Linked DNA regions of Homo sapiens: region 1 is linked to region 2. The links come from fine-mapping of genetic effects on gene expression. A gene starts in region 2. The other region holds a variant in brackets. All regions are shown on one strand. Distances are from middle to middle.

Region 1 (5,364 bases), 21 kb before region 2:
ACAGCACCAATCAGACACCCCCATCCCCACACACACCCTGCACCGGCCCACGCGGCCATCACACTCGGAGCACACGCGCTCCGATGTGGCTGCACTGTTGGCACACGCACAGGCGCGCACGTGGGCGCATACACGCCGGGGCGCCCTGACCTCCCCGCACGCCCTCCCGCAGCCGCCCCGGCCTCTGTCCCCACGCGTGTCACACACGGCTGGGTGTGCTCGCTCACGCCGTCCCGCGACGTTGCTCCAGCCGGTGCCCGGAGCTCGATCGGGAGAGCTGCTGTTGGCCGCCTCTGCCTGCCAGCGTTTGCCAAGCGGTTTCCATGGTGACACATCTTGGCTCCGACAGGAACCAAGGAGTGTGGGGAAGAGGGTCCCCACGGAGGGGGCGAGGCGAGGCAGGAGGTCTCTGCGTCTTCAGGCTCCCGGCAGGCATGGGGGGCTCCACGAGTGCAGACACCCCCCAATCCCAAGCCAGGCTTGCACCCCGAGAAGGAGGCTCTGGGCTGGTCCCTCTGGGCTGCCTGGCACAGGGACTGACTTAGGTCAGTCAGTCATTCAACAAACTTTCTGGAAGAGCCACTCTGTGCTCACAGCCGGGTCTACGATGCTGCCCAAGACGTGGTCTCGCAAGAGGCTCGGAGTCGAATCCTGAGGCTAAACTGACGTCCCGCCACCCTACTGAAGGCCCCATCTAGCAGGTTGGTCCGTGGCTGCGTAAGCACCAAGGCCCACCAAGCACTTTCTCAAAGGGGGGCTCCCCTCTGTGGTAGATCAGTTACAAACGTGTCCCCGATGCCCCACTCCTCCCTGAATCACCACGCCCTTTGCTGTGTGACTTTGCCCCAACTCCTGTCTAGAGGTGGCGTCTACTTCCCCATCCTTCAATCTGAGCCTGTCTTATGACTTGCTGTGGCCAATAAAAGGTGACAGCAATGACATTCCCAGCTCTGAGCTTAAGCCTCCAGGGACATGCGTGCCTCTGCCTGCTCTCCCCGACTCCTGCTATAGCACGAGAACGGGCTGGGCTGCTTTGCTGGAAGGCAAGAGGGCGATGGAGCCTGGGTCACCCTAGCTGAGGCCATCCTGGACTAGCTAGCTCCCAGCTGCCCACAGATGTGTGAGTGAGCCCAGCTAGGACTTGCCAGGCCTAGCAATGAGCAGCAGTACCACCAGGCCCTTTAATACTAAGGACATGTGAAGTCATGTGTTTGGAGCTATTTGTTACTCAGCACTAGCTACCTGATACCCCTCTCTCTAGGGCCCTGGCCAGCAGCTGCCCAACCTCAGTTAGCACAGGCCAGAGGCTCTAAAAGTTCCCAGGGGTGCTAAGAACCAGGCCATGGTGACAGCTGGATTCCGCTGGCTAACAGTGCCAGAGGGTGCCGGGGACAGAGCTTGTGGGAGGGGGTTCCCATGACAAGTCCATGGCAGGAGCTACTGAAGCAGAAGCACGAGTCTCCACTGCCTTTCTTTGCCTCGGTTTTTCCCCCTGTGAAATGGGCCCATCACCCTGTCCTGTCTCTTGGGGACCCCTGGTAAGGTAGCGTGTGTGGCAGCTGGAAACAGACCTACTACGTGCCAGCCCCGGGTTGCAACCTAGGGAGAGAGGCCCATTGCTGCCTTCTAGGTTCCCACAACTGAGAAGGCAGCGTCACTAATCCCAGCTTACAGACTGGAAACAGTGGGGAGAGGATGAGTGGCTTGCCCGAGGCCCAGGACACACAGGAGCAGGTGGGCATGGCCACAAGCCCCGGCTGGGTCTGAGCTGGTGGTTATCTTCATGTTTTTCTCCCTGTGGTCACCTTTTTGGAAATTTTTTTTTTTTTTTTTTTTTTTTTTTTACATTTGACTATTTTCTTGTTTATTGGTATTTCTTTGGGAGATTTTTTTTTTTTTTTTTTTTTTGAGATGGAGTTTCGTTCTTTTTTTTTTTATTTTTTTTTTTTTTATTGATCATTCTTGGGTGTTTCTCGCAGAGGGGGATTTGGCAGGGTCACAGGACAATAGTGGAGGGAAGGTCAGCAGATAAACAAGTGAACAAAGGTCTCTGGTTTTCCTAGGCAGAGGTCCCTGCGGCCTTCCGCAGTGTTTGTGTCCCTGGGTACTTGAGATTAGGGAGTGGTGATGACTCTTAACGAGCATGCTGCCTTCAAGCATCTGTTTAACAAAGCACATCTTGCACCGCCCTTAATCCATTTAACCCTGAGTGGACACAGCACATGTTTCAGAGAGCACGGGGTTGGGGATAAGGTGACAGATCAACAGGATCCCAAGGCAGAAGAATTTTTCTTAGTACAGAACAAAATGAAAAGTCTCCCATGTCTACTTCTATCCACACAGACCCGG[C/G]AACCATCCGATTTCTCAATTTTTTCCCCACCCTTCCCGCCTTTCTATTCCACAAAACCGCCATTGTCATCATGGCCCATCCCCAATGAGCCGCTGGGCACACCTCCCAGACGGGGTCGTGGCCGGGCAGAGGGGCTCCTCACTTCCCAGTAGGGGCGGCCGGGCAGAAGCACCCCTCACCTCCCGGACGGGGCGGCTGGCCGGGCAGAGGGGCTCCTCACTTCCCAGTAGGGGCGGCCGGGCAGAGGCGCCCCTCACCTCCCGGATGGGGCGGCTGGCCAGGCGGGGGGCTGATCCCCCCACCTCCCTCCCGGACGGGGCGGCTGGCTGGGCGGGGGGCTGACCCCCCACCTCCCTCCCGGACTGGGCGGCTGGCCGGGCGGGGGGCTGACCCCCCACCTCCCTCCCGGACGGGGCGGCTGGCCGGGCAGAGGGCTCCTCACTTCCCAGTAGGGGCGGCCGGGCAGAGGAGCCCCTCACCTCCCGGACGGGGCGGCTGGCCCGGCGGGGGGCTGACCCCCCCCCACCTCCCTCCCGGACGGGGCGGCTGCCGGGCGGAGACGCTCCTCACTTCCCAGACGGGGCAGCTGCCGGGCGGAGGGGCTCCTCACTTCTCAGACGGGGCGGTTGCCAGGCAGAGGGTTTCCTCACTTCTCAGACGGGGCGGCCGGGCAGAGACGCTCCTCACCTCCCAGACAGGGTTGCGGCCCAGCAGAGGCGCTCCTCACATCCCAGACAGGGCGGCGGGGCAGAGGCGCTCCCCACATCTCAGACGATGGGCGGCGGGGAAGAGGCGCTCCTCGCTTCCTAGATGGGATGGCGGCCGGGAAGAGGCGCTCCTCACTTCCTAGATGGGATGGCGGCCGGGCAGAGACGCTCCTCACTTTCCAGACTGGGCAGCCAGGCAGAGAGGCTCCTCATATCCCAGACGATGGGGGGCCAGGCAGAGACGCTCCTCACTTCCCACATGGGGTGGCGGCTGGGCAGAGGCTGCAATCTTGGCACTTTGGGGGGCCAAGGCGGGCAGCTGGGAGGTGGAGGTTGTAGCGAGCCGAGATCACGCCGCTGCACTCCAGCCTGGGCACCATTGAGCACTGAGTGAACGAGACTCCGTCTGCAATCCCAGCACCTCGGGAGGCCGAGGCTGGCGGATCACTCGCGGTTAGGAGCTGGAGACCAGCCCGGCCAACACAGCAAAACCCCGTCTCCACCAAAAAAAAAAACGAAAACCAGTCAGGCGTGGCGGCGCGCGCCTGCAATCACAGGCACTCGGCAGGCTGAGGCAGGAGAATCAGGCAGGGAGGTTGCAGTGAGCCGAGATGGCAGCAGTACCGTCCAGCTTTGGCTTGGCATCAGAGGGAGACCGTGGAAGGAGACCGTGGAGAGAGAGGGAGACGGAGAGGGAGAGGGAGAGGGGGAGGGGGAGGGGGAGGGGGAGGGAGAGGGAGAGGGAGAGGGAGAGGGAGAGGCTGTGTGTCAGAGGTTTTCCTCGGAGTTTCGTTCTTGTTGCCCAGGCTGGAGTGCAATGGCACAGTCTTGGCTAATTGCAACCTCTCCCCTTTTTGGAAATATTGTACTTCCTGAGCTAACTGCACTTACGAGGTAATGATTGGTGTGAGTTTCTAGTCTCTGTTTGTTTGTTTTTTGAGACAGAGTCTCATTCTGTCACCCAGGCTGGAGTGCAGTGGCACAATCTTGGCTCACTGCAACCTCTGCCTCCCGGGTTCAAGCGATTCTCCTACCTCAGCCTCCTGAGTAGCTGGGATGACAGGCACCTGCCACCATGCCCAGCTAATTTTTGTATTTTTAGTAGACAAGGTCTCACCATGTTGGCCAGGCTGGTCCTGAACTCCTGACCTCAAGTGATCCACCCGCCTCGGCCTCTCAAAATGCTGGGATTACAGGCGTGAGCCACTGCGCCCCGGCTCGCTCCTTTTTTTTTTTTTTTGAGACAGAGTCTCACTCTGTTGCCCAGGATAGAGTGCAGTGGTGTGATTTTGGCTCACTGCAACCTTTGCCTCCCGGATTCAAGTGATTCTCCTGCCTCAGCCTCCTGAGTAGCTGTGATTACAGGTGCCCACCACCATGCCTAGCTAATTTTTGTATTTTTAGTGGACGGGGTCTCACCGTGTTAGCCAGGCTGGTCTTGAACTCCTGAGCTCGAGAGATCCGCCCACCTCGGCCTCCCAAAGTGCTGAGATTACAGGCGTGAGCCACCACGCTGGGCCCTGCAGTCTCTTTTCACTGGGTACTGCGGTTCAGTGTTACTGCCTAGGGGCAGCTGATCCGCAGAGCCCCTCCCTCTCTGAGTTCCCCCAGGCCAGAGCTGAGAGCCAGGCTCTCCAGATCCCTGTGGGAGGGCCTTGTATCTGAGTCCAGTTTTCCTCCAGCACGAGGCCTGGCATTTAATTACCTGCTATCTTGTCAGCTGTTCAGTGTTCCTGGCCTTTGGATATTTCACCCAGCGTGTTTCATCGTCTTCAGGGAAACGGCTGGTCCAGGCACCTAGCCTGCTGTCACCAGGAAGGGACATGTGCCCCGAGGCGGGGCTGATGTCACTGCTGCACCCTGGTGGGGCGCACCAGCCCACGGCTGTGCCACCCGGGAGGTGCCCTTTTGTTGGAGGGCATTTGCCAAAACCAGCAAACTTGGGTTCTCATTCTGTGGCCTTGAGGGGTCAGGGGGACAGAAGTCAAGGGCCAGTCCTGCCCAAAATGGGGAGCATTATAGAAAACCCTTCCCACCTTAAGCTGAAAACCTAAAGGTCTACACTCTTAGGGTAAGAATGAAACGGAATTAGCCCTGCTCCCTCCACACGAAAGACACTTGGTGCTAAGAGAAGCAAAAAGAAAAAGTTCTTCAGAAGTTAGGGCTACAGGTCTTCTCTAGCACAGATTTGAGGTGCTAGCACAGATTTGAGGTGCTGCCAAGAATGCAGAGAACTCCAAGCACTCAATGCGTTGTTTTGACATAGGGTCTCTCTCTGTCACCCAGGCTGGAGTGCGGTGGTGTGAT
Region 2 (5,364 bases):
GCGCCCACCACCACGTCTGGCTATTTTTTTTTTTTTTGTATTTTTAGTAGAGACGGGGTTTCACCATGTTAGCCAGGAGGGTCTTGATCTCCAGACCTCGTGATCTGCCTGCCTCGGTCTCCCAAAGTGCTGGGATTACAGGCTTGAGCCACCGCGCTCGACTGACACTATTTTTTTGAGACAGAGTCCATTCTGTCGCTGGAGTGCAGTGGCACGATCTGGGCTCACTGCAACCTCCGCTTCCTGGGTTCAAGCGATCCTCCCCCTCAGTCTCCCAAGTAGCTGGGATTACGGCGCATGCCACCATGCCCGGCTAATTTTTTTATTTTTAGTAGAGACGAGGTCTCACCATGTTGGCCAGGCTGGTTTCGAACTCCTGACTTCAAGTGACCTACCCGCCTTGGCCTCCCAAAGTGATGGGATTACAAGCATGAGTCACCGCGCCTGACCTATGACACTACTTAAAATGATGAAAAATGAGAAATATAAACATCTGACAGTGGAGTGATTCAATTAATTATGGTCTATTCCTACAGCAAATAACATGTAGTCAATAACATTAACATATTATGTGGAGAAAACACTCACTATGATAGCAAGAGAGAAAGCAAGACACCAAAATTGTGTTTACAGTATGACCTCATTTTTTTTTCCCCAGAAAAATACAGCTTTATGTGTTATGAAAAGGCTGGGAGTAAATTAAAACGTTGATGGTTTAATTTTCCTCTTTACTCTTTTGTTCATGTTTTAAAGAACATGTATTACTTTGTTTTTTTTTTTTGAGACAGGGTCTCACTCTATCACCCAGGTCAGGGTGCAGTGGCACAATCATAGCTCACTGCAACCTCTACCTCCCGGACTCAAAGGATCCTCCCATCTCAGCCTCCAGAGTAGCTGGGACTACAGGTGCGCCACCAGGCACAGCTAATTTTTGTTTTTTTTTTTTTTAGAGATGACGTCTCGCTATGTTGGACCAGGCTGGTCTTGAACTCCTGGACTTAAGCAATCCGCTCGCCTCAGCCTCCCAAAGTGCTGGGATTACAGGTATGAGCCACTGCATCCGGCCCCTACTTTCATAATCAGAAAGAAAACAAATCTGATGTCTTAAACACACTAAATACAACGAGAACAACAATAAAACAAGTTTGTTCACGCCTTCTGTAGAACTGAACCTTGGGGTGCCCTGATCGTGGCTCAACTGGCTGAATTTCAGGCTCTAACTCTCCAGATCATTCTCTCGGGCTTCATCTTAACTTGCCCTCAGTCTGCCACAGATAATCCTTAGGAAGTGAAGGAAAGACATCTGATTGGCAGTTTCTGCCCTTCCTCCAGGACAGGGGAGTCCCCATCTGGCCCCTGCTCCCTGTCCCAGCCTCTGCGTCTGGTCTCTGGATAGGCAGTAAACAGCAGCACCACCTCCTTACCTCCTTCAGTGACCGTTTTAAACCAGTCCAGGAGCTTCTCCAAACAGGTGTCATCTGCCACCGGCTGCCTGGGATCTACCAGAACAGCACAGAGAGCCGGGAGCAGCTGGGCGCATTCTGGGTCCATGGTGAGGCCGCAGGCCCTGCAAAGGCAATGTGAGAGCCAAACCTCAATGCCCACTCCAGACCCAGCTCGCTCTAGTCACAGCAGCCCACCATGCCTGCTCAGGCCTGGGAAGGGGCCCCAGAACTTTCATCTCAGACCAGGAGAACCATGATCCCCAGACCAGAGGTCTGTACTGCAGGGATGGATGCAAAGCTTTGGTCTAGGTGGGGCCCTGAGCGCTGGTGGCGGGGCTGAAAGGGGCAGATGAGGGTCTAGCTGAAACCACAAGGCCTCCGGAACTCAAAGTCTGTCACCCTTGGTCTTTGGTGCAGTCGGGGCAACAGCGTGGTGCTGGCCCAGGCTGCAGGTGGGCCAGAGTCAGGGGCATCTTTGAGTTCCGGGGTCAGCCATGTGTGCAAGGGGATGTCTACCCATGCCCCAGGGCCAGCCTGGGCTGGAAAGTTTCTGTCCCTCCCAGCGTCAAGTGGTGGCTGCATTTGACGTCCTGAAGCCAGCAGGGGGGTGCGGAGGGGAAGGGGCGCCTGTCCGTGTGTCTGTCCCTCTCAGGGTCAGTGGTGGCTGCATTTGCTGTTCTGCAGCCAGTAGGAGGGTGAGGAGGGGAAGGGGCACCTGTCCGTGTGTCTGTCCCTCCCAGGATTAGTGGTGGCTGCATCTGAAGCCGGCGGGGGGGAGAGGGGGGCGGCGGGGTGCGGAAAGGAAGGGGCGCCTGTCTCTCCCAGGACCAGGTGTGCATCCGTGCGTCCAGCCTCGGGGGTGGGCGGGGTGGTCAGCGGCTCTGTCTAACCGGGGCACCGTCTGCCAATGCCCGGGAAGGCTGCGTCCCGGGAAGAGGAACCCTCCCCACACTTTGAAGTCAGTTTTGGCCGCGAGCGCCAGGCCCGAGAGTCCAGAAGGGGCGCCAGAGCAGGCGGCCACAGTCGGGCTGGGAAGCGAGCCCAGGTCGCGCACGCCCCGGGCTGGGCTGCTCCCTGGCCCGCCCGCCCCCCTCGGCCGGGTCTTGGCCTCCCCGCGCCCCACTACCACGACCTCGACCCCCGAAGGCCCACGCGCCTCACCGCTCGGTTGCGTCCTCCGCCGCAACCACCCCTCGCCCAAGGCTCCGCCTCCGGACAGTGCCACCTGCCAGGCCCGGAGGAGGCGGAGGACGGAGACGGCTGGCGTGGGGAACTGAGACTGCACCCCTGGAGGCCGCTCTGGAAGCCTCGAGGGCCCAGACTTGAAGGAAGGAGTTCAAGCTGAGAGGGGCTGGGGACAGGCAGGCGCCAAGCCGGTCGCTCCGACAGATCACCCCCGCCAGGCGCCTAGTGGTTCATGCCGAGCATCCGGTGGGTGGGCGGGGCGTCTCGAGGGCGGGGATCTCTGAGGAAGGCGCGGGGTTGTGTCCGGAGGGGCGGGGCTTCGCCTGCAGGGCGCCCAGTGTCTGCACCGGCGGGAGCGAGAAAACTATGTGCCGGAGAGAAGCGTCCTGATCCGTGCACCAAAGCCCTTGGTCATTTAGCTTCAGGTTCTCAAATTAAGTCCTCCGCGGCCGCGCTGTGGCTCATGCCTGTAATTCCAGCCCTTTAGGAGGCGCAGTTGGGAGGATTGCTTGAAGCCAGGAGTTGAGACCAGCCTAGGCAACAAAGCGAGACCCCATCTCTTAAAATTTAAAAAAAAAAAAAAAAAAAAAAAAAAAGGCCAGGCGTGGTGGCTCACGCCTGTAATCCCAGCGCTCTGGGAGGCCCAGGCGGGCGGATCACGAGGTCAGGAGTTCGAGACCAGCCTGGCCAACATGGCGAAATCCCGTCTCGTCTCTAATTTTTGTATCTCTAAGATATCAAAATTAGCCGGACGTGGAGGCGCGCGCCTGTAATCCCAAGTACTCGGGAGACTGAGGCAGGAGAATCTCTTGAACCTGGGAGGCGGAAGTTGCAGTGAGCCAAGATGGTGCCACTGCACTCCAGCCTGGGCTACAGGGCGAGACTCCGTCTCAAAAAAAAAAAAAGAAAATCAGCCAGACCTGGTAGCATGCGCCTGTGGTCCCAGCTACTCCAGAGGCTGAGGCGGGAGGATCGCTTGAGCCCAGAAGTTCAAGGCTGCAGTGAGCTATGATCCTGCCCCGGCACTCCAGCCTGGGCAACAGAGCAAGACCCTGTGTTTTAAGAAAGCAAACAGGCAGAAAAACTAGGTCCAAAAAATTGAGTTCAAAACACTAACTGTGTGTTCGAGAGTCTCAAAGCCAGTGGATAGACAAGGCTCATGTTCCCAAAGCATTGTTTTATAGCAAGATTGTTGGGAGCCAACACCAGATTTAGGAAACAAAGCAGAATTCCTATGGATATTAAAATTTAAAAATTTAAAAGCACTGACTTTGCTGGGTCACCTTTATTTTATTTATTTATTTATGGAGACGGAGTGTCACTCTTTTTGCCCAGACTGGAGTGCAATGGCTCAATCTTGACTCACTGCAACCTCCACCTCCTGGGTTCAAGCGATTCTCCTGCCTCAGCCTCCCGAGTAGCTGGGATTACAGGTGCGGGCCACCACGCCCAGCTAATTTTGTATTTTTAGTAGAGACGGGGTTTCACCATGTTGGCCAGGCTGGTCTCGAACTCCTGACTTTAGGTGATCCGCCCACCTAGGCCTCCCAAAGTGCTGGGACTACCAGCGTGAGCCAACGCGCCCAGCCGTGCTGGGTAACCTTGGAAAAGCAACTTCCCTGACGCTTGCATGCCCCCTGCACACACACACACACGTACATCCTTAGAACTACATGTGTGAAAAAGTTTGAAATGCACAGTTATCTTCCCTGAAATTTGGTTCCTCATTGTGAAATGAGATACTAACATTCACCCAGTTAGGTAATTGTGGAGTAAAGAAAACTCAACAACAGCACTGTGCTAAGTGCTTCACTTACTGTAAACTTGTATGATTCTACAGCAACGGTAGGAGAGTACCACTACCAGCCCATCAGATGAGGAAAATGAGGCACAGAGAGGCTAACTCATAAGGCCTTACAGCTACTGGATTGGCACAGTTTGGATTTGAACCCAAGCAGTCTGGCTCCAGATTTGAATATTGTATTGCACAGGTCCACAATTTTTTTTTTTTTTGAGGTGGAGTCTCGCTCTGATGTCCAGGCTGGAGTGCAGTGGTGTGATCTCAGCTCACTGCAACCTCCACCTCCCAGGTTCAAGCAATTCTCCTGTCTCAGCCTCCTGAGTAGCTGAGACTACAGGCACCCACGACCCCTGGCTAATTTTTGTATTTTTAGTAGAGACAGAGTTTCACCATATTGGTCAGGCTGGTCTCAAACTCCTGACCTCAAGTGATCCACCCACCCTAGACTCCCAAAGTGCTGGGATTACAGGCGTGAGCCACCATCGTGCCTGGCCCAGGTCCACAATTTCTTATCTCAAACTTTTGGGGACAAATGTTTTTTCAGAATTCAGAACTGTTCAGATTTTAGAAATGTGACATGGCACATGTACATTAAATATGAGATTACAGCAGAGTGTGACACACACCCCATAATTAAACGTATTAATAGTTATTCAGGGCCGGGTGCAGTGGCTCACGCCTGTAATCCCAGCACTTTGGGAGGTGGAGGCGGGCGGATCACGAGATCAAGAGAGCGAGACCATCCTTGTCAAGGTGGTGAAACCCGTCTCTACTAAAAATACAAAAATTAGCTGGGCGTGGTGGCACGCACCTGTAGTCCCAGCTACTCGGGTAGCTGAGGCAGGAGAATCGCTTGAACCCAGGAGGCAAAGGTTGCAGTGAGCGGAGATCGCACCACTGCACTCCAGCCTGGGCCACAGAGCAAGACTCCGT

Which allele goes with the higher level. Positions count from the first base shown, and alleles are read on the strand shown. Sizes are in standard deviations (SD) of each study's normalised expression.
As copies of G replace C in region 1, the expression in monocytes of the gene that starts at base 2,644 in region 2 goes down (moderate effect, 0.58 SD a copy in Quach 2016).

What was found. PIP is the estimated chance that this variant, and not a neighbour inherited with it, causes the effect.
Region 1: its variant is fine-mapped to the expression of BRAT1 in monocytes (Quach 2016, PIP 0.95).

What each region holds. Positions count from the first base shown.
Region 1 is chr7:2,531,561-2,536,924 of GRCh38, forward strand. No RefSeq gene overlaps it. Among named protein-coding and RNA genes, the nearest start is that of MIR4648, 7.2 kb to the left of the region's middle. RefSeq lists enhancers at 1-705, 1,891-2,811, 2,812-3,731, 4,441-4,942, 4,943-5,364. The variant C/G (reference allele first, on the strand shown) is at 2,350.
Region 2 is chr7:2,552,881-2,558,244 of GRCh38, forward strand. BRAT1 (BRCA1 associated ATM activator 1) reads right to left here and starts at 2,644. Exons shown (of 14, transcript NM_152743.4): 1 at 2,607-2,644; 2 at 1,425-1,567. The coding sequence starts at 1,551. RefSeq lists a silencer at 2,399-2,638 and an enhancer at 2,551-3,228.